Linked DNA regions of Homo sapiens. The protein of the gene in region 6 interacts with the protein of the main gene of each other region in a pairwise test. Each region holds a gene or a part of one and is shown on either strand. Other genes may lie near its edges. The genes, in order: REL, CD40, MAPK8IP2, OPRM1, PGRMC2 and SLC39A13.

Region 1 (2,769 bases), on a different chromosome or scaffold from region 6:
TTATAGTCCTTTGGGTATATACCCAGTAATGGGATGGCTGGGTCAAACGGTATTTCCAGTTCTACATCCCTGAGGAATCGCCACACTGACTTCCACAATGGTTGAACTAGTTTACAGTCCCACCAACAGTGTAAAAGTGTTCCTATTTCTCCACATCCTCTCCAGCACCTGTTGTCTCCTGACTTTTTAATGATTGCCATTCTAACTGGTGTGAGATGGTATCTCATTGTGGTTTTGATTTGCATTTCTCTGATGGCCAGTCATGATGAGCATTTTTTCATGTGTTTTTTGGCTGCATAAATGTCTTCTTTTGAGAAGTGTCTGTTCATGTCCTTCGCCCACTTTTTGATGGGGTTGTTTTTTTCTTGTAAATTTGTTTGAGTTCATTGTAGATTCTGGATATTAGCCCTTTGTCAGATAAGTAGGTTGCGAAAATTTTCTCCCATTTTGTAGGTTGCCTGTTCACTCTGATGGTAGTTTCTTTTGCTGTGCAGCAGCTCTTTAGTTTAATTAGATCCCATTTGTCAATTTTGGCTTTTGTTGCCATTGCTTTTGGTGTTTTAGACATGAAGTCCTTGCCCATGCCTATGTCCTGAATGGTAATGCCTAGGTTTTCTTCTAGGGTTTTTATGGTTTTAGGTCTAACGTTTAAGTCTTTAATCCATCTTGAATTGATTTTTGTATAAGGTGTAAGGAAGGGATCCAGTTTCAGCTTTCTACATATGGCTAGCCAGTTTTCCCAGCACCATTTATTAAATAGGGAATCCTTTCCCCATTGCTTGTTTTTCTCAGGTTTGTCAAAGATCAGATAGTTGTAGATATGCGGCGTTATTTCTGAGGGCTCTGTTCTGTTCCAGTGATCTATATCTCTGTTTTGGTACCAGTACCATGCTGTTTTGGTTACTGTAGCCTTGTAGTATAGTTTGAAGTCAGGTAGTGTGATGCCTCCAGCTTTGTTCTTTTGGCTTAGGATTGACTTGGCGATATGGGCTCTTTTTTGGTTCCATATGAACTTTAAAGTAGTTTTTTCCAATTCTGTGAAGAAAGGCATTGGTAGCTTGATGGGGATGGCACTGAATCTGTAAATTACCTTGGGCAGTATGGCCATTTTCACGATATTGATTCTTCCTACCCATGAGCATGGAATGTTCTTCCATTTGGTTGTATCCTCTTTTTTTTTTTTTTTTTGCAGAGACAGGTTTTCCTTATATTACCCAGGCTAGTCTTGAACTCCTGGGCTCAAGCAATCCCCCTACCTCGGCCTCCCAAAGTGCTGGGATTACAGGCGTGATCCATCCACCATGCCAGTGCCCTGCTCCATGTCTCTCTTAACATGGAAACCATCATGAGTTTTCCTGAAGTATTAGGTTAGACGTTGACAACCCAGCTGTTTCTGTTCACTATGGTTGTGAGAAGCCCAGTTATTTAAAAGGCCATTAAGATTGAAAATAGATTTAGAGGTGTAGGTACAGACTGGGAAGGGGCATGAAGGAAATTTCAGGGGTGCTGGAAATGTCCTAAACATGGTGGTGACATGGGTGTTAACATACATAAAAATTAATTAAGCTGTACATTTAAAATTAGTCCCCTTTATGCATTTTACTCTACATGTGTTATCCTTGCAAAGAAAAAGACTGACATCTTTGAGAGCAAGAGTTTTTGTCTTATTCACCTCTGTATAATTTCCAACATCGTGCTTTGCACATTGGACATTCAAAAAATGTTATACAAGATTGACTGCATCAATACTGGAGTGTTGTGTGAGGGTTAGGTGCTGAGGCTGAGAAGTGTATGAGGGAGACCTGAGATTAAACCTGCCACATAAAGTGGAGAGAAGTAGCAAGGTCAGGGCTATGAAATAATCCCAAAAACTTTAGAATTTCTACATAATACAGTTGACACTACTATTCTCAATAGAGCTGCTTTCAGTCTCAAAGGGCTGTGGTATGTGTGCGTGTGTGTGTGGTAAAAAAGGGAAGCAGCAGGTCAAGGAAGAGAAGTGTTATTTCACAAGACTTAAGTAATCTTGTCATTGCTGCTTTTCCTGCCAGAAAATCATTACCTTTCCCTTTAAAAATCATTTCCATATACATTTTACTAACTCCCATGTCAATTTCACCCTTCCTTTTCTAATAATAGCTACTATTTATTCAGCACCAACTAGTATACTAGGGACTATGCTGGGTGCTGGAGTCCCAATGACGAAAGAGACAAACACTTAAATAAGAGGATGTCCGTAATACAGGCATGTACAAAGCTTCACCTCAAGTAAGGAGGCAGGACCAACCTTCATACAGAAGCCCAGCCTTCAAGGATGAGTGTTCTAGTTCCAGAAGAGCAGAGGCAGAGTGGGTAACATGCTAAAGGTATGGAGGCCTGAGAGAATTGTTTTTTTTCAAGGAATGCTAGCTATGTAATAAGGAATAGGGAGAACATGGTATTTTAACTGGAACATATGGAAAAGATTATTACTAGGGAAAAAAGAATGAAGGCCTTTACTAAGAAGGCAGCAGGAATTAAGAAGGGACATATTCAAGAGGAGACAAGCTCAAAAGGACTTGATGATTAAGTATGAGTGTGATGGAGAAAAAGAATACAATACTTTGAGGTTCCTAGTAAGTATCTTGGGTGGCGTGGTAAATGGTAATGCCATTATGGAAGGTAAAGAAGAGAGCGAGCCAGTTTATCAGGACATTCAGGTAGCATGAAAGAAAACTGAACCTGTGGGCTCTGATAAGATCATCGGAGGGCGGGTAGGGGGAAATAGCA
Region 2 (3,500 bases), on a different chromosome or scaffold from region 6:
GAGGGAAGGGCTGGATGAACAGATGATGAGGAGTTGGAGGAAGAAAACATGATGGGCTTTGGAAAGGAGCAGGAAGGGAAGCAGAAGAATAGGAGGAAGAGGCCAAGTGCTAAACATAGCCCCAAACAGCACTGGGACCAGCTGAAGTCAGCCAGCTTCAGGACTCCAGGGGAGCTGCTGGAGTCCCCATATCCTATGGGATCTTTGGGAAGAGGAATGACTCAGGCATCAAGCCCCAAGGAATTCTGTTCTGTTCAGAGAATATTGTGAGTTTACAGTACCATTGCTTTGTAAAAATACCAGAATGATTCTCTGGGTGCGATTATAATCAGCTCAGTTGACAATTTACTTGAAAACAAACATGCCAAATATCATGCAGGTTCCACTTTCTGTTTTGACTTGCACTTCAGTTTGCAGCCTCTGTCCTGGATGACTTTTACCTTTCTGCTGAAGAAGTTGCAACGGAGATTTCAAGATCCCTTCAAATTGCACAATTCTGTTTTTAGGTCCATCCAGAACCACCCACTGCATGCAGAGAAAAACAGTACCTAATAAACAGTCAGTGCTGTTCTTTGTGCCAGCCAGGTGAGATGCCAACCCTCTAGCCCCATCATGGAGTCCCCCTTTGCTTTGGTGGCAGACGCAGACCCCATATGTTAACTGTAAACTCAAATCTGAAACGACCCATTTCCCAGCCCTGCTTCACTGTCAGAATGTTCTGGTTCCCTCTCTACCAGGTAAAACTCTGTCTACCCTGAACTAGGGATCCCAGCTTCTCCATCTTCCTCGCCTGATTATGAAGGATCCAAGACTTTCATCTTTGAATCCCCTACCCTAAAGCCTGGCCTGATCATTGTGTGGTTAGTGTCTGACTCATGGAGTTGGCCAGAGCCCTCCCTCATTTCCTGATGTTTTCCAGGACAGAAACTGGTGAGTGACTGCACAGAGTTCACTGAAACGGAATGCCTTCCTTGCGGTGAAAGCGAATTCCTAGACACCTGGAACAGAGAGACACACTGCCACCAGCACAAATACTGCGACCCCAGTGCGTGCGCTGTTGGGAAAGGGACGCTTGGGAACCGGGCTGATATTCCCGACAATGCAGCCATTCTAATTTTATGTAGCCAGGGTCTGCTCTGATTGGTTGGAGTCCGGGCTGTACTGATCATTAAATGATTTGATTGCCATCTCTACTTGGAAGAGGGTCTGAGGAAGAAAGAGCAGGCAATGTGGGGAGTGAGGCTCAGAGCATGGCCCAGCAGGGGGTTCCCATCCTTCCTGCCCTTCTCTTCTCAGACCTAGGGCTTCGGGTCCAGCAGAAGGGCACCTCAGAAACAGACACCATCTGCACCTGTGAAGAAGGCTGGCACTGTACGAGTGAGGCCTGTGAGAGCTGTGTCCTGCACCGCTCATGCTCGCCCGGCTTTGGGGTCAAGCAGATTGGTAAGTGGCTCATCTGGGAATCAGTTTTGGAGGGGGACAGAGGAGCTTAGGGCCCAAGGTGAGGGGCTGGGCAGTGGGCACTTAGCCCCAGAGGCAGAGGAAGCAGAGGCTCCAACCTATGTCGGTATCCCCACTGGAGTGAGCTGCAGACGGGACCTTGTTCATTCTGCCTTCTGCCATGGGGATCTGCCTTTGAAGGGCAATGGGAGAAGTCCTCCTGGGGACTGCAGCTGTCGGGGGCAGTACCACATCGGGGGAAGAGTGCTCAAGGCAGGAGCTCTTCCCGTCCTGCCTGGCCACTGGCTGCCTTGTGAGCCGGACAGGTGGTCCACTGTGATGGTTAATGTCCCCCTCCCCACCCACTCCCAGCTACAGGGGTTTCTGATACCATCTGCGAGCCCTGCCCAGTCGGCTTCTTCTCCAATGTGTCATCTGCTTTCGAAAAATGTCACCCTTGGACAAGGTATAAGCACTCATCCCTTGTGTTTCCTGCTCTAAGAGTGGCATGGAGCTGCCTCCATTCTCTCCAGCCACCTGTCCTGTCCCTGCTCCCAGAGGTCCACACACACTCATGTACTTGTGAAGCATCTGCAGAGTGGCCTCATGGCCAACCAGACAGGCACATTTCCACATTTTTTTTGCCTGCTGTCTCTTTGAGGTAATAGACACTGTTGATCTCTCGCTTCATGAGAGCCTCCTATCTTGGGGGTATTGGGACACTTATTTTAGCTTTCCTTCTGCCCCTCCTGCTTCTCCTCAGTTTTCCTCGTCTTGCTTTCACCTTACCTGGCTTTCTAGGGCTTTCTGGGCTCTGGGTGCTCACCCTGAGGGCCTCCCTCTCTTACCTCCAACTCCAAACCCACACCAGGTCCTGCCACTGGCTGTCTACGTGTTTTGGGAACTTACTGTCTCCACTGTTGTCACTTTAGTTTGGGCCTCATCACTGTGGTCTGGGTGATGCCTTTTCTGCCTCCTGGCCTCCCTGCCTCTGTCTCTCCCCTCCTGCTGGTTCTGTCTCCATCCTCTTGCCAACATGAGCGTTCGACAGTTTCTTTCAAATCATGACACTCTCCTATTTGAGATGCTTCCTGTCTCTCTGTTGGAACTAAGACTCCTTAGCATGGCACCCAACCTTCCTGTTGCATTTCCTGCTCTCTTTCCTGCATCGCATAGCTTCATGCTACTTGCAATCCTCTGAACACACTGTTCATTCTCTTCCATCAAACTCATCTGCCTGGAATACCTTAAACATGGGCCCCAGGCCAGGCGCGGTGGCTCTTGCCTGTAATCTCAGCACTTTGGATGCCAAGGCGGGTGGATCACTTGAGGTCAGGAGTTCAAGACCAGCCAGCACAACATGGTAAAAACCCATCTCTACTAAAAATACCAAAAAATTAGCTGGGTGTGGTGGTGGGCGCCTGTAATCCCAGCTCCTCGGGAGGCTGAGGCAGGAGAATCACTTGAACCCGGAAGGTGGAGTTTGCAGTGAGCCAAGATAGCGCCACTGCACTCCAGCCTGGGCAACAGAGCGACATTCTGTCTCAAAAAACAAACACCTGCCCCATTAACTTTTTGCATTTGATTTTTAAAAATGGGCAAGATAGGCACATGGGACAGAAGGCACAAAAGAGCCAAAGTGATGTCTTTCTCCCATCCCTGCCCCTTAGGCTCCCAGTTCTTTCTGGAGGGAGCCATTGTTCCTTGCATATCCTTCCAGAGATTCTACATATAAACAAACCAACACACACACACACACACACAAACACACACAAAATTTCCCTCCTTTTACTTTTGCACAAATAGGAGTATACATTTTATTTGTTAACTGTCTGCCTTTCCCTAATAGATTGAAAATTCCTTAAATGTAGAAACTTGGCCTTTTTTTTTTCTTCCATTGATACATCCCCTATACCTGGAACAGTACCTGACGCATGGTAGGTGCTTAAATTTTTACTGATAAATGTTGACTGATAACTGGAGGCACCACTGGTATAGTTTTTTTTTTTTTTTTTTTTTTTTTTTTTTTTTGAGACAGAGTCTCACTCTGTCGCCCAGGC
Region 3 (3,500 bases), on a different chromosome or scaffold from region 6:
CTGGCCATCCTGAGCCCCAGGCCCACTCAGGCGTCCTCTGCACCCACACAGGCTTCTCACATCCTTCGCCCGTGTGCCTCTCTCCACCCAGACTGGATGCAAGCCTGTCTGACCCACGCCTCCTGAGTCCAGCTCAGAGCAGGCGCCACTGCAGGCTCAGCTCACAGAGCTAAGTGGGTGCAGGTGGAGCTCTCAGGGCTGGGCACGGGCAGCCCTCAGGGTCTGTGGGGACTCAGGGGGCGGTTGGACTCTCAGGGTTTGTGGGGGCGGTTGGGGGACTCGGGGACGGTCAGACTCTCACCAGCTGTTGCGGGGATGGCAGCCGCAGAAGGAGATGTTCTTCATCTGGAAGAAATGGCTGCAGCGCTGGAACTAGAGCAGAGGTGGGCAGAAGTCCCTGTGTCAAAGGAGGCCTGGCGCCACCCCTGCCTCCCACCTACTGGACACCCCTGCCAGCCTGGCCCCGTCGGACTCCGTGGCCTAACCCTATCCCCCAGTCCCCGGTCCCCAGTCCCCCACACTCCCACCTCGGGCCCTCCTCCGCTCAGACTCAGCTTGACCCCCCGAAGAGAGATCTCGAGGTCACAGGAGGCAGGAGGGCGCAGGTGGACGGTCAGTTTCCGGGCAGTGGCAATCTACAGAAGAAGTTGGGGGAGAAGAGGGTCTTGAGGAGCCCACAAGGGCCTTTCTTTCCCCTTGGTGGGACTACGCCTCTGCTCCTTTTAGCTTATGTTTGAGGACACACATGCTGAGGACCCTGAGATGCAATTCTGGAAGACATAAGGGGTGTGGCCTTGGCCACTCCTCAGGCTCAGGAGGAGCAATCGCCTCTCTGCAGTCAGCTTGCTTCATCTTCCTTCTGCTCCTCCAGGCAGGCTGCTGCGCTTGGCTCAGGAGCCAGGAACAGAGACCTCACCCGCCCTGGGCTGCTCTGCCCTGCTCCCTACTGCCCCCCAGCCTCAGCCTCAGTACTGGTGCCTGGGCAGGTGCTCACTAAACGTCCACTGAGTGAGTGGATGAGTAGAGGGCTCCCAGGGAAGGGGCTGTGAGGGCTGGTCTTGATTCCAGATGGGAAGAGGAAGGGCTGATGGCAGTCGGGGCCACCTGGAAGATCTGTGGCCCAGAGACCCAGAGGTGATGAGGGACAGCTGCTGTGCTCTGCCCTAGACTCACCTGCTCAGGCCTCTGAACCAGGGCCTGGGGTACCCACCCCGAGCTCCCCCTGCAGCATCCCCCAGACCCTCCCTGGAGGAAATCAGACCTCAGACCTTGGAGCCTCAAGCCCTGTGCCAGCCTGCAGTGCTGGTGTGGCCGCCAAGCGGACCCTCAGCCTGCACTTGCCCGGCCTCCACACTGACCTTCTGCATGGCTGCACACAGGATGCCGTTGCCCTGGTGGCAGGGCACCTCCACGGAGCCCAGGAACTGCACGTCAAAGCGCTCCACCCAGCAGGGGCTCCGCTTACTCCCTGGGGAGCGGGGCACAGAGGGCCCAGGTCAGGCAGGGGCACAGGGGAGGATCTGGGGTGAAAAGCCTCCCCTCGGGGTTGGGACCTCACCCAGCAGGTCCTTGGCAGGGCCGGGCACCGCATGGGCGTAGAAGGCAGGAAACACACCGCGCTCCCCCGTGCGCATGTTGAAGCCACGGAACCAGAAGTCGTCCTCCTCGGCCTCCACCAACACAGGGTCATCCACATCCAGCTCCAGCTCGTCTGGATGCCGCGGGATGAACCTGCCGTTGGGGGAGAGGTCACTGGGGAGGGGGGCGGGATTGACGGTCGTGTCCACTGGCGTTCCGTGATGGCAGGGACTGAGGCTGGGGCCACCGCCAGCAAGGAGGGAGGCCGTACCTGAACACAGCCCGGTGAGTCTGCTCTCGCTCCTCGCCGTTGACCAGACAGGAGAAAAGGCCAAAGGACTCGGTGCCTGGGAGACCCGGCAGGACAGAGGCGGGGGAGACAGGGAGACAGAGTCAGAGTAGTGCTTAGAGGCCTGGCCTTGGGCAGAGGCCAAGTCCCCTCCACAGTCCGGTGTAGGTGTCCTACGAGCGGGAAGGAGCTGAGGCAGAGCAGGCCACCTCATGCCATGTCCTGGGTGGGAGAGGGCACCCAGCCCTGACCACAGCCAGACCCTCAGGTGGCCCTGGGCACTGTGGGGGACCCTGGGACTGGGGCCAGGGAGTCTGCACCTTCCTCTGGGCCACCCCCCTTTTCCCCACCTCTCACTCACTGGAGGACCGAGATGTGCTGTTGACGAAGACATTGAGGAACTTCTTGGAGAAAGTGAGGTCAGGGCTGTCCGGCGAGGTGTCCCCCGAGACCTGACCGCCGCCTAGCAGCGCCGCGCCCGCCTCCTCCTCGCTGGCCTCCCCGCCGCTGTCCTCTTCGCTGTCGTGGCCCAGCCCAGCACAGCGCCGCAGGCTCACCAGCTCCAGCTGCGTGTGCTCATCCACCACCAGCGTGTACTTGACCGCGTCGTACACCAGCGACGCGTCCCGCGGCGCCGAGGGGCCCGTGCCCCTGCCCCCGGGGGACCCCGCACTGTCCTCGGCATCCTCCTCTTCCTCGTCGTCCTCTTCGTCCTCCTCCTCGGAGCAGGCGGCGGAGCAGGCTCGTCCCGGGCGGGCGGCGCGGCCGGGCGCGGCCCACAGCGGCGTGATGGTGTCACGCGTGGGGTTGCTGAGGAATAGGCAGGGCCCGGGCTGCGCGGGGCCGGGTCGAGGCGCGGCGGGCGCGGGCGGCGGCGGCGCGCACAGCGTCTCCATGTCCACCAGCTCCACGCCGCCGGGCCCCGCGGCCGCCTCGGGGTCCTGGGAGTCCTGGGCGGCCCCGCCGGCCGGCGACACGGGCTCCCCGGGCGGGCGCGGCGCAGGAGACAGGCACTGGCCGGGGCAGCGGATGGGCGAGGAGCCCTCGGAGATCATGCGGCTCACCAGGTTGCTGAGCAGCCAGGGCGAGTCCGCGTCCTCGCTGAGGTCCGGCTCCGACTCCGACCCCGACTCGTACTCGCTGTTGGTGTCGTCGGGGCCCACGGGCAGGAAGGCGGGGCGGCGCGGGGGTTCGCGCGGGGGCTCCGGCTCCGAGGCGGGCGACGAGGCCTCCTCGATGGAGTTGGTGAGGTGCGAGGAGCGGCCGCTGCTGCTGCTTCCGCCATCGCTGCTCAGCTCCAGCTCCGTCTCCGAGATGGACGAGATCATGCGCCCCAGGCGCGCGCCGCCCGCGTCCTCCGAGTCGGAGCCGGGCGAGGACAGCTCCTGGCTGCTGCGACGTCCCCCGCGGCCGCCGCTCGAGCGGCTTCTCAGGTCAGCCTCGATGCCGGGATCTGAGGAGGGCGAAGTCCCCCCTGGCGCAGGGGGTTCCGCAGGCCGGTTCCCTTCGCAGTCGCAACCCGGGCGCACTGGCGACTGCGCCCCGCCGGGCCCGGTGTCCGTGGCAGGGAGGGGGCCCGGGAGCTCTGCTGGGCAGGGAGGTGGGGTCACCCTCTCTGCACCACCCAGGCCTC
Region 4 (3,500 bases), on a different chromosome or scaffold from region 6:
TGCTTTGGGATAGGCTGTATTACCAGTCCAGGGCGTGAAGACGTTTAGTGACCGGGGCCATGGTGAATGGCAAGGATGCTCTCATGTTCCAACCAGAGCCAGTGAGAGTTTATTTTGAGACTTATGGACAAAGAGTGTATTAGTTTTCCTGCAGGACCCACACCTGAGAAGACGCATGGTATGTAGTTGCTGGAGGAGCTTGTCTGAAAATGGACCTAATCCGGAGGATGTGGATTTGAGAGCGTGAGAGAGAACCCCACACCTGAAGCCAGGCCCTCCTTGGGCTTCTGATTTACACGGTGCCATCAATTCCTTTTAAATGTTAGCTTGTGTTTACTGTTTTTCCGTCACACGAGGTTGAGTCTAACTCATTCAGCCCAAGACAGCTGTTGGTTGGAGGCCCTTTGTTTAGGACTGAATTCAGTGTCCAGGAAAGTGTTTTGGTTTCAATAACATCAGGAAAGTGATTTCATAAATCTCCTCAGGGTCAATAGGACAGCTTTGTTACTGAAGCTTTAAAATTCTGATACCTGATCTGGTCTGCAATACTTGCAGAAGCTGCATTACTGCCAGAAAAGCTCCACATTTTCAGACTTGGGGGCTTTTTTTTGGACTTACTTTGGGAGTTTCACTTTCTTAATGGATTTTAAAGAAAAAGATAGAGCCATTTAACTTGAGGAGAGAAAATAATTTGCTTTTAGTTTGGACTTTAAATATGGCAAATATAAAAAGGATAATGTAGACAAATACTCCAAAGTACAAAAACCAACAAAAAAGCAAAATTAAAACTGTGGTTTTAAGATTTAGAATAATTGACCTTGGTGCTCAAGAAGTTGAAACATTTTTTATTTTTTTAATAAGAAGAAGTTTCTCCCCAAAAGAGAAAATAACTTTTGCTAGATTCACCGTTGGTTATAGACCTGCATGATCTAAAGACATGCTTCATTGCATTTGCCACTTTCCTACCCAGCAGACCTTACATTTCGTGGCTTATCTTTAATGGTGTTTTATGTTAAGTAATTGGTTTCTTTACAGTCAGTTTTCTGACTCATCATACTTCCAACCTTTCCTTCAGGCTTATTTTAGCACTAAGTATTTCCAATGTATGTTTATTTTAATTAAAAAAAATCATTTCCTTCTCCAGAGTGAGGTGTTTGTGGAAAAAAAAATTATGTCAGGGTTCAACATGGTGAAAGGAAACGTGGTTATGCATAGTTAATTAGCATGCTAGCCATTCCACAATGTGTATACATTTCAAAACATCATGTTGTATATGGTAAATATACATAATTTTATCATCAATTTACCAAAAAAAAGTGAATATTTATCTATAAAAATTCTTTCAACGGGCATTTTATAGGAATGATGCTGTTTAATTTTTCTCAATTTATTTAAAAAGTCTTCCTCTAAAGATAGCCAGCATTCTTACCCCAGTTACTCATGCTTTGGATCACAGCAACATATAAAAGGGGGCTCAACGATCTTCTAAATATGTGAAAGAAAATTATACAAAGCTAAAGGATTAAGAATTCCAATTGCCTCCAGCATATACCCAAAGGCTTTAATCTGAAGAGATGGTCTAATCAGAAAAGGAGTAATGTGGGCTGGGCCTGGTGGCTCAAGCCTATAATCCCAGCACTTTGGGAGGCTGAGGTGAATGGATCACTTGAGGGCAGGGGAAGGAGACCAGCCTGGTCAACCCTGTCTCTACTAAAATTAGAAAAATTAGCTGGGGGTGGTGGCAGGCACCTGCAATCCCAGCTACTTGGGAGGCTGAGGCAGGAGAATCGTACCACTGCATTCCAGCCTGAGCAACAGAGAGAGACACTGTCTCAAAAAAAAAAAAAAAAAGGGCAAGCTTTCATTCTGTTCTGATGTGGTGGCATGAATGTTGTCCCAGCAAAGTTCAATGAATGCTCAGAGTCACATCATGGGCCTTGCACAGGAGCATAGGACTCAGAGTTAGCAAACTAGCAAAAGAAATGACCTGCAGGAAGAATTATCTTTGCCATTCAGTTTACCTGAGTGGGTCCGAGTAGAACTCCTGGCTATTAAAACACAAGCCTTTTTCCTTACTCCATGCCTACTGCTTTGTACTGTGCTGTGAATGTGTTCTGTGGCAAAATGGGCAAAGAGAGACTCATCTGGACTCACAGGCCATCCTGATATTGACCCTTCCTATGGTAGCCACTGAACTCCATCTTCTGCTCGAAGCAGTGGCCCAAGCTATTTCTTTCTAATTATCCCATTAAAATTTTTGTAGTAGGTATTTCTTTAACTTTGGTCTAGATGATTAAATAGCTCTTTTGTTTTATGAATTCAAATGAATTTACAATGCTATTCGTTTTTGAAAAAAATTGTGTTCTTCTGAGAACCATCGATGTTTGACCCATTAGAGTGATTTTTATGGAACTTCCAGAAGTGTTGGGGAAAAGGCATTGTGAGGCCCATTTGCTGGCAGCTCACCTATTCTTTTATGTTGCATATATGACTTTTGTTTATAGATGTTCTTCCTTTCTTATGGTTATAAAATAATTCTTATTTATCTTTTGACCTATTCTTCACACATTTCTCCAACTATTACTACTTACAAAATGTGATTGCTTTTGACCTATTTGTGTTAAGTGAAGCCAGACTAAATAAATTACCTCTGTACACCTGATGGGTTTTGTAAACTTCTGTTTAGTTTTGTGGTTAATTATTTGAATTGTGGTGATCGTGTCTCAGTTCAGAAATAAAACTGATCAAGAGAGTGAGAGGAGGAAGGACACATTTTAGAATCCAGCATGTGTGTGTGTGTGTGTGTGTGTGTGTGTGTGTGTTTAATTCCACATCATGGCCTTCATATTGCTCAACTACCTTTTTCATAAGTTCACAATAGAGTCAATGGTGATGGACGGAAGAGTTTCATCTCTTTTGGGGCTAATTTTTCTGCCTTTTCATTTTTTTTACCAAGTAGTGTGAAGAAAGATACCTAATTCAGTAAGAATTCAACAAGCCCCTTTTATATGTTCAGCAATGTGCTTGGAAAGATATATTTCTTGCATTTGCCATGACTTTTATGTCCACTTACCCTCACATAGAAATTAACCTTTTTAGTCGAGAAAAAAATCCTCCCTAGAGTGTCATACTTTAATACTCATATTTAATTGGATCAATCCAATGAGATAAAGATACTTTCCTACATTTCAAGTAATTATTTAGGCAAAGAATATGGTCAAATGAGTATCTACCTGAGTTAATTGATCCATTATTATCCATCTATTCCATTCTGATATCCCAGGTGCGTTTTTACTTGTGAGTGTGTGTGTGTGTGTCTGTCTGTCTGTTGGGGGGGGAGGTTCTAAAATAAGAAAAAGCATAATCAAAACTAGTGATTATCCTCTCATTGGCATTAACATGGAGAAAGACTATATATTAGGTTGCTATTTTGTATTATATTCTCCACTAGCTTAGTGAAGGGGAGAATGGAGGACTTCTCACTTTGCTATAAAATGTTG
Region 5 (3,500 bases), on a different chromosome or scaffold from region 6:
CAGCCTGGCCAACATGGTGAAACCTCATCTCTACTAAAACTACAAAAATTAGCCGGCTGTGGTGGCGCACGCCTGTAATCCCAGCTACTCAGGAGTCTGAGGCAGGAGAATTGCTTGAATCCAGGAGACGGAGGTTGCAGTGAGTTGAGATCATGCCACTGCACTACGGCCTGGCCGAGAAAGCAAGACTCCTTCTCCAAAGAAAAAAAAAAAAAAAAAAAAAAGGTATTAACCAGTTATGTCTGTGTGTGTACATGCACATGTGCGTGCAAAATTCTACACACTTTGTGGCAATGGGTGTTTTCAGGAGGACAAGGAGAGAGACAGAGACAGAGAACTAGTGTGTTTAAAAATAAAAATTTCTAAGAAACAATGATAAAAAAAATCTATAAACATTATATTTACCCTTAATGCTGACTAGACCAATGCTTATAAACTTAAAAAAGCAAAAAGTGAAACATACAAAAGGAAAAATAAAACTAATAAAGGCCATAACAATCTACAAATGGAAAATTATAGGTTCAATTTTTAAAAGAATTTTCCAGCAACCTCACTTTTCTCTCTCAGAGTTTCCCAAAGTGGAAGGGACAGACTGCCTTCCCCATTTGGCAGATAAAAAACAGGAGCGGAGGCATTCAGTGTGATTTGCCTAAAATTACTGACAGAACTGAGAGTACTATTTCCACTTTCCTAAATCCTCCAGTGTACCTCAAGAAAACACATAGAAGACTCACAAGCCCAAAGATGGAGTAACGACCATGAAAACTGGAGCATTTTACTACTTACAAAATTTCAAGGGAATGAAAATTTTAGAATACTTATTAAATCAAAATGGAAGAGAATTAACAAAAAAGCTCTACTTAATAGCTTTTCTAAGCATTCTATTATAGTATTTATCTCCATGGCCTGCAAACATTAATCTACTTCAGGCACTTCAGAGTATAAGCCATAAAACACATTTAAATGATACAAAGGAGAGAAGATAAAATCATTATAAAAACAGCAATCAGAAAGCCCTCCATCTTTGAGTATATTAATATATACCAGTGCATTCTCTATTAATTTCTCTACCAACTTCCCTAAGAAAGCTTCAACACTGAATGAATAATAATAATAAAAAATTTCATAAAATATGCTCTTTCTGGGGTACTGGGGGTAGGGAATGATTGACTTGGTAAGAGTGAACTTGAGTCAACAGTTAATAATCCAAGCCAAATTCCAGACAAATGATGTTCTGTTGACTCTTGAATAGAAAAGAATAATTCAGTGATTAACATATTCCCCCACTCCCTAAACTATATTAAGCTGTCTTCTCCATATGTTTAGAATTTCCCTCAGGAAGCATTTAACTTCTGCAAAGGTCTTTTTAGTAATAATTTTCTATGCTCTTTCCTGTAAGACCATTAAAAAAATTTTTTTTGTTGTTTTTTGAGACAGGGTCTTACTCTGTCACCCAGGCTGGAGTACAGCGGCTCAATCATATTTCACTGTGGCCTCTACTTCCTGGGCTCAAGTAATCCTCCTGCCCTAACCTCCCAAATAGCTGGGACTAGAAGCATGGCCCACCAGGCCTGCATAATTTCTTTTATTTTTTGTAGAGACAAGGTCTCCCTATGTTGCCCAGCTGATCTTGAACTCCTGGCCTCAAGCAATCCTCCTGCCTTTGCCTCCCAAAGTGTTAGAATTACAGGCCTAAGCCACCATGCCCAGCCTTCTGTAAGGCCATTAAAGAATATAACATTAGGAACTAAAGTTGGAACTGGATGGGTTATTCTGAGGAAGGATTTGATGTCTAATAAAAGGAGATTTCCCTGCATTCATAATACAACCAGGAGCTTATCTGAAAAGTCAGCAATACCTTCCCATTCCGTTATCCCCTTACATAAAAAACCTAAATATTTACCAATTCTAATATTTGGTAAGTATACTTGGCTATTCATAATACTAAAACAATAGGGAGCTCCCCAAATAAAGCCAATTTGAAATGGTTTAAGTCTGTTGCATGGTATAATTTATTTATTTGTATTAGTATTTTTTTTTGAGACAGAGTCACACTCTGTGGTGTGATCTCAACTCACTGCAACCTCTGCCTCCTAGGTTTAAGTGATTCTCCTGCCTCACTCAGCCTCCCAAGTAGCTGGGATTATTGGGTGTGGCACCACGCCCAGCTAATTTTTATATTTTTGGTAGAGAGGGGGTTTCACCATATATGGTGGACAGGCTGGTCTTGAACTCCTGACCTCAGGTGATCCGCCTACCTCAACCTCCCACAGTGCTGGGATTACAGGCATGAGCCACTGTGCCCAGCCTAATTTATTTTTAAAAAGGCTAGTTTACATGATCTGGTTATTTTTTATTATTAAGGCTCATTTAGACACTAACAGTTCAGTAGTAACTAGAAGAATTAAATTCTGTTGCTTTATCAAATATTAAAATATAATGCTGATCCAAAAACAGCCTCCCAATTTTAAGCAAATTCGTGCTACAAAAAATGAACAGCATTATTCAGTCAAAGCAAATACTCTGAAATATACTTACATAACAAATATTCAAGGACATCATTTTAAAGATAAATTTTATTTCAAAGCTATTGTTAAATATACCAACAAGAGGCAGGCGGATCACGAGGTCAGGAGATCGTGACCATCCTGGCCAACGTGGTGAAACCCAGTATCTACTAAAAAATACAAAAAATTAGTCGGGCATGGTAGTGGGCACCTGTAGTCCCAGCTACTTGGGAGGCTGAGGCAGGAGAATGGCGTGAACCTGGGAGGCAGAGCTTGCAGTGAGCTGAGATCTCGCCACTGCACACCAGCCTAGGCGACAGAGCGAGACTCCATCTCAAAACAAACAAACAAACAAACAAACAAACAAACAAAACAAACCCAACATGAAGTACTATACTAGTCAGAATTCAGATTTCATTTAGTTTTCAGTGTCAATCCAACTTGTGGTCAAGATATTTTAAAGTTCAATAAACCTATTTGTTACCGTATCCTAAAACTGCTTACTTTAATACAATCAGTTAGAATGAGGTGACATATTCTTGAAACAGCAACAACATATGCTCATTGTAAAATGTTTTAAATATTAATTTAATAAACAGAAAATTCCAGGAGGAAGTAAATATGTAGTAACAGATAATTTTGTGATTATTAGGATGATTATATAGCTACCTTAGTGTTTCTAAAGGGATATTTTAATTATTCTCACAGTTTAAAAACCATATCTCTCAGAGATGAACTTTAATTAATTAAAGTTTATCAACAGTGCAGTTTTCAGGCCTGTTTTGACAATAATCTTTTGTGATTATAAATTGAGTAACTAATAACACTTAGTATTGGGTAATTTATTTCAAATAAGATTATAATCAGCCTATCAACAAATGAGGCAATATGTAAAAGTGATTAACTGAACTAATAAATTTTTTTATGCTTAGGTCCAGTAAGTCCCAAGACTTTTAGAGAGAATGCAGTATGGTAAAACTGAAATAATACCTC
Region 6 (2,704 bases):
CGGTGGCTCACACCTGTAAGCCCAGCACTTTGGGAGGCTGAGGCGGGCAGATCACAAGGTCAGGAGTTCAAGACCAGCCTGGCCAATATGGCAAAACCCTATCTCTACTTTTAAAAAAAAGCCAGGCGTGGTGGCACACACCTGTAAATCCCAGCTACTTGGGAGGTTGAGGCAGGAGAATTGCTTGAACCCAGGAGGCGGAGGTTGCAGTGAGCCAAGACCGCACCACTGCACTCCAGTGTGGGTGACAGAGTGAGACTCTGTCTCAAAAAAAAAAAAAAGATAAGGACAGCGTCCTGGAGTTTGTGGTGGTGAGGGGCTAAAATGGCATACGGCCAGGCTCATATAGGTGCTCAGTCATTGGAATAAAAAGTTAAGCCAGGAAGACATGGAACGTTCAGAGATGCACTGGGGTGACAGTTCAGAGACAAGGGCCTGGCAGTGGCAGTAAGGAAGGCCCTGCCTGGCCATGGAAGGCCGTGCAGAACCAAGGCAGCCAGTATGTGGATAATATTTATTTGTATCTTATCTATAGAACAAATATTTACAGATACAAACGGAATCACAGCAAAGTTGCTATAAAACCATCCAGACCTCTCGATGGCCACTTCTGAAAACATCCACGGTGAAGGGCAGGGCCAGGCCTGGCTGTGGAGTGGGCCAGCTGAGTACCTGGGCGTCAGCCAAGGGAAATGGTTGGGGATTATGGCTTCAGCACTCTGCCGGAGCACATTCCTGAGCGCTGACAACGTGGAGCCCTCACCGCCCCCACCTACCCCAACCTCAATGGGGAAGGAAAGGGGCCTGAGCTGGGCAGGGCTGCCCGGGCTCACTATGTGCCTGCTCCAGGAGTCCCTGGCCCCTGTGCTGGCAGGAGCATCCCTGAGCTGGACCGGGAGGCCTCTCTGGCCTGGGGCTGCTCCCTGCCCGGCAGGCTGCTGTTTGGCAGCTGGAGGTGGCAAGAGCTGCTGGTGCTGCCAGGGCGTGTTGGCCAGGAATGAGCTCCCAGGGCAGCCCTGAGGAAAGGGTCTTAGGAAGCGCCTCCCAGCTCACTACTAGGAGCTGGGGACTGTCAGTGCTGAGTGGGGCTGGGGTACAGGAGCACCTGCCTCTCCTTTCTTTGGCTTAGAAGTGGGGAAGGAAGGGCCAGGAAAAGGGACCAAAGCCGCCCCAGCCTTGGCCCCTAGGCCGCCTGGGGACTGTGTGTGTGCTGAGGGGGCAGTGGGAGGTGGGCAGCTCTGGAGTTCCCTGCACCCTGGATCCTTGGGCTGCTCTCACTCCCGGGGTCCCAGCAGGGCAAGGCCTCTGCTTGGGACCAGTGCTGCTCTTCCTCGCTGCTTACTCCGGGAGGTGAAGGTGACAGGGCGGCAAGGAGAGGTAACCACAGCATGGCTGGGGACAGGCGCTACACTGGGCCCCGGACCCAGCACAGGGATCACAGTGTCGGTCTCGCGCACACACCTCTGGCCACATGTGCACACCACATACATCCACACGCACCTCCCTCCTGTCTGGCGGGAGGCTCATTCTCTCTCGCAGCCACTCGCCCTCTCTGCCTCTCACATATGCGGTCACAGAGTGAATCCGAGCATCTTATTGCTGCAGGGGGCAGGGGCGTCGGCATCAGGGAAAGTTAATCCACGAAGAGCGAGAACAGCACCATTACCACGATGCCCGCACAGAGCAGAAGCAGCTGCTGCAGGGAGCGCCTGTGGGGAGGGAACGGCTCACGGTGGAGGCATGGGCAGGGGGAGCAGGCAGCGGCCAGGAGCCCTTCCCTCCTGAGCCCCTAAGGGCCCTGTGAGTGGCAGTCCTCTTCCTCCAACAGGTCACTCACCACGGGTCCTCTTCTTCCAAGAGGTCAGGGAGCACGTTCACCAAGGCGATGTAGAGAAAGCCGCCAGAGGTGAAGGGCAGGACCCAGGCTGCCGTCTCCTCTGCAGCGGGAGAACACCCAACTGGGTACCCAAGGCACTGTGTGTGCTCCCCACCTCCCGGGCCTGGGGACCAGCAGTGCGGTAGCCACACCCTTTGGCTGGTGCCCCTCTGCTGATGCCACCCGCCACAACCACCCGCCACGCCCGTACCTACTCCCTTGGGGGACTGGGTACAGATGGCGAAGCCAGCGCCCAGTAGGCCCCCCAGCGCTGTTGAGAGTTGCAGCTTGGCTGCGCTCCATCGGTCAAAGCCGGCCCGGAGCAGGATGGCAAAGTCGCCCACCTGAAGGGAGGTCCAGAGGTTCACCCTGCGCCCCAGCGGGGCCTGATGCCCTGAGTGCTCAGGTACGATATACACACTGAGCCCCCTGCCCTTCCCCACCCTTCCCCTGGGACCCCCATCCTGAGTATGGCAGAGATGGCAGCTGCAGGCTGCTGGGGTGAGGAGCTCCAGCCCTCACAGCCCAGCCCCAGAGTGCCATGCTGGACAGGCCCAGCCCCACACCCTCCTGAGCTCCACACCCATGCTGATCATGGGCACTGTGGGGGCCTGGGCCCCTGGGGGCTGCCCTACAAGCGCTCACCTCATGGGGGATCTCATGCAGGAGGATGGCCATGGTTGTCAGGAGCCCGATCTGCAGGGAGGGGAGCCGTGGCTGCGGGGTCTGTGTTGAGGGCTGAGCACCCCACTCGCCCACTCATTCCACAGAGGTTTACTCTGCTCTGAGCTGGCTCTGGGTGGGCACTGTGTTGGCCACTGGAAATAC

What was found.
Region 1: the proteins of SLC39A13 (region 6) and REL interact in binary tests that used the Homo sapiens proteins (3 or more experiments, as listed by UniProt).
Region 2: the proteins of SLC39A13 (region 6) and CD40 interact in binary tests that used the Homo sapiens proteins (3 or more experiments, as listed by UniProt).
Region 3: the proteins of SLC39A13 (region 6) and MAPK8IP2 interact in a two-hybrid assay, tested with the Homo sapiens proteins (one large-scale study listed by BioGRID and IntAct).
Region 4: the proteins of SLC39A13 (region 6) and OPRM1 interact in a two-hybrid assay, tested with the Homo sapiens proteins (one large-scale study listed by BioGRID and IntAct).
Region 5: the proteins of SLC39A13 (region 6) and PGRMC2 interact in binary tests that used the Homo sapiens proteins (3 or more experiments, as listed by UniProt).

What each region holds. Positions count from the first base shown.
Region 1 is NC_000002.12:60,926,574-60,929,342, reverse strand, and holds part of REL (proto-oncogene c-Rel), read right to left. Parts: 3' UTR 1-2,769. UniProt on the Homo sapiens protein: Proto-oncogene that may play a role in differentiation and lymphopoiesis.
Region 2 is NC_000020.11:46,121,314-46,124,813, forward strand, and holds part of CD40 (tumor necrosis factor receptor superfamily member 5 isoform 1 precursor), read left to right. Parts: intron 1-506; coding exon 507-585; intron 586-919; coding exon 920-1,045; intron 1,046-1,296; coding exon 1,297-1,443; intron 1,444-1,812; coding exon 1,813-1,906; intron 1,907-3,500.
Region 3 is NC_000022.11:50,603,793-50,607,292, reverse strand, and holds part of MAPK8IP2 (C-Jun-amino-terminal kinase-interacting protein 2), read right to left. Parts: intron 3,456-3,500; coding exon of another isoform or gene 3,453-3,455; coding exon 2,229-3,452; intron 1,926-2,228; coding exon 1,850-1,925; intron 1,732-1,849; coding exon 1,559-1,731; intron 1,469-1,558; coding exon 1,359-1,468; intron 636-1,358; coding exon 528-635; intron 373-527; coding exon 302-372; intron 1-301. UniProt on the Homo sapiens protein: The JNK-interacting protein (JIP) group of scaffold proteins selectively mediates JNK signaling by aggregating specific components of the MAPK cascade to form a functional JNK signaling module.
Region 4 is NC_000006.12:154,084,240-154,087,739, reverse strand, and holds part of OPRM1 (mu-type opioid receptor), read right to left. Parts: intron 1,234-3,500; exon of another isoform or gene 1-1,233. UniProt on the Homo sapiens protein: Receptor for endogenous opioids such as beta-endorphin and endomorphin. Receptor for natural and synthetic opioids including morphine, heroin, DAMGO, fentanyl, etorphine, buprenorphin and methadone.
Region 5 is NC_000004.12:128,274,314-128,277,813, forward strand, and holds part of PGRMC2 (membrane-associated progesterone receptor component 2), read right to left. Parts: intron 1-3,500. UniProt on the Homo sapiens protein: Required for the maintenance of uterine histoarchitecture and normal female reproductive lifespan. May serve as a universal non-classical progesterone receptor in the uterus.
Region 6 is NC_000011.10:47,414,293-47,416,996, reverse strand, and holds the end of SLC39A13 (zinc transporter ZIP13 isoform a precursor), read right to left. Parts: coding exon of another isoform or gene 2,573-2,704; coding exon 2,522-2,572; intron 2,221-2,521; coding exon 2,088-2,220; intron 1,959-2,087; coding exon 1,838-1,958; intron 1,710-1,837; coding exon 1,634-1,709; 3' UTR 501-1,633; downstream 1-500. UniProt on the Homo sapiens protein: Functions as a zinc transporter transporting Zn(2+) from the Golgi apparatus to the cytosol and thus influences the zinc level at least in areas of the cytosol. May regulate beige adipocyte differentiation.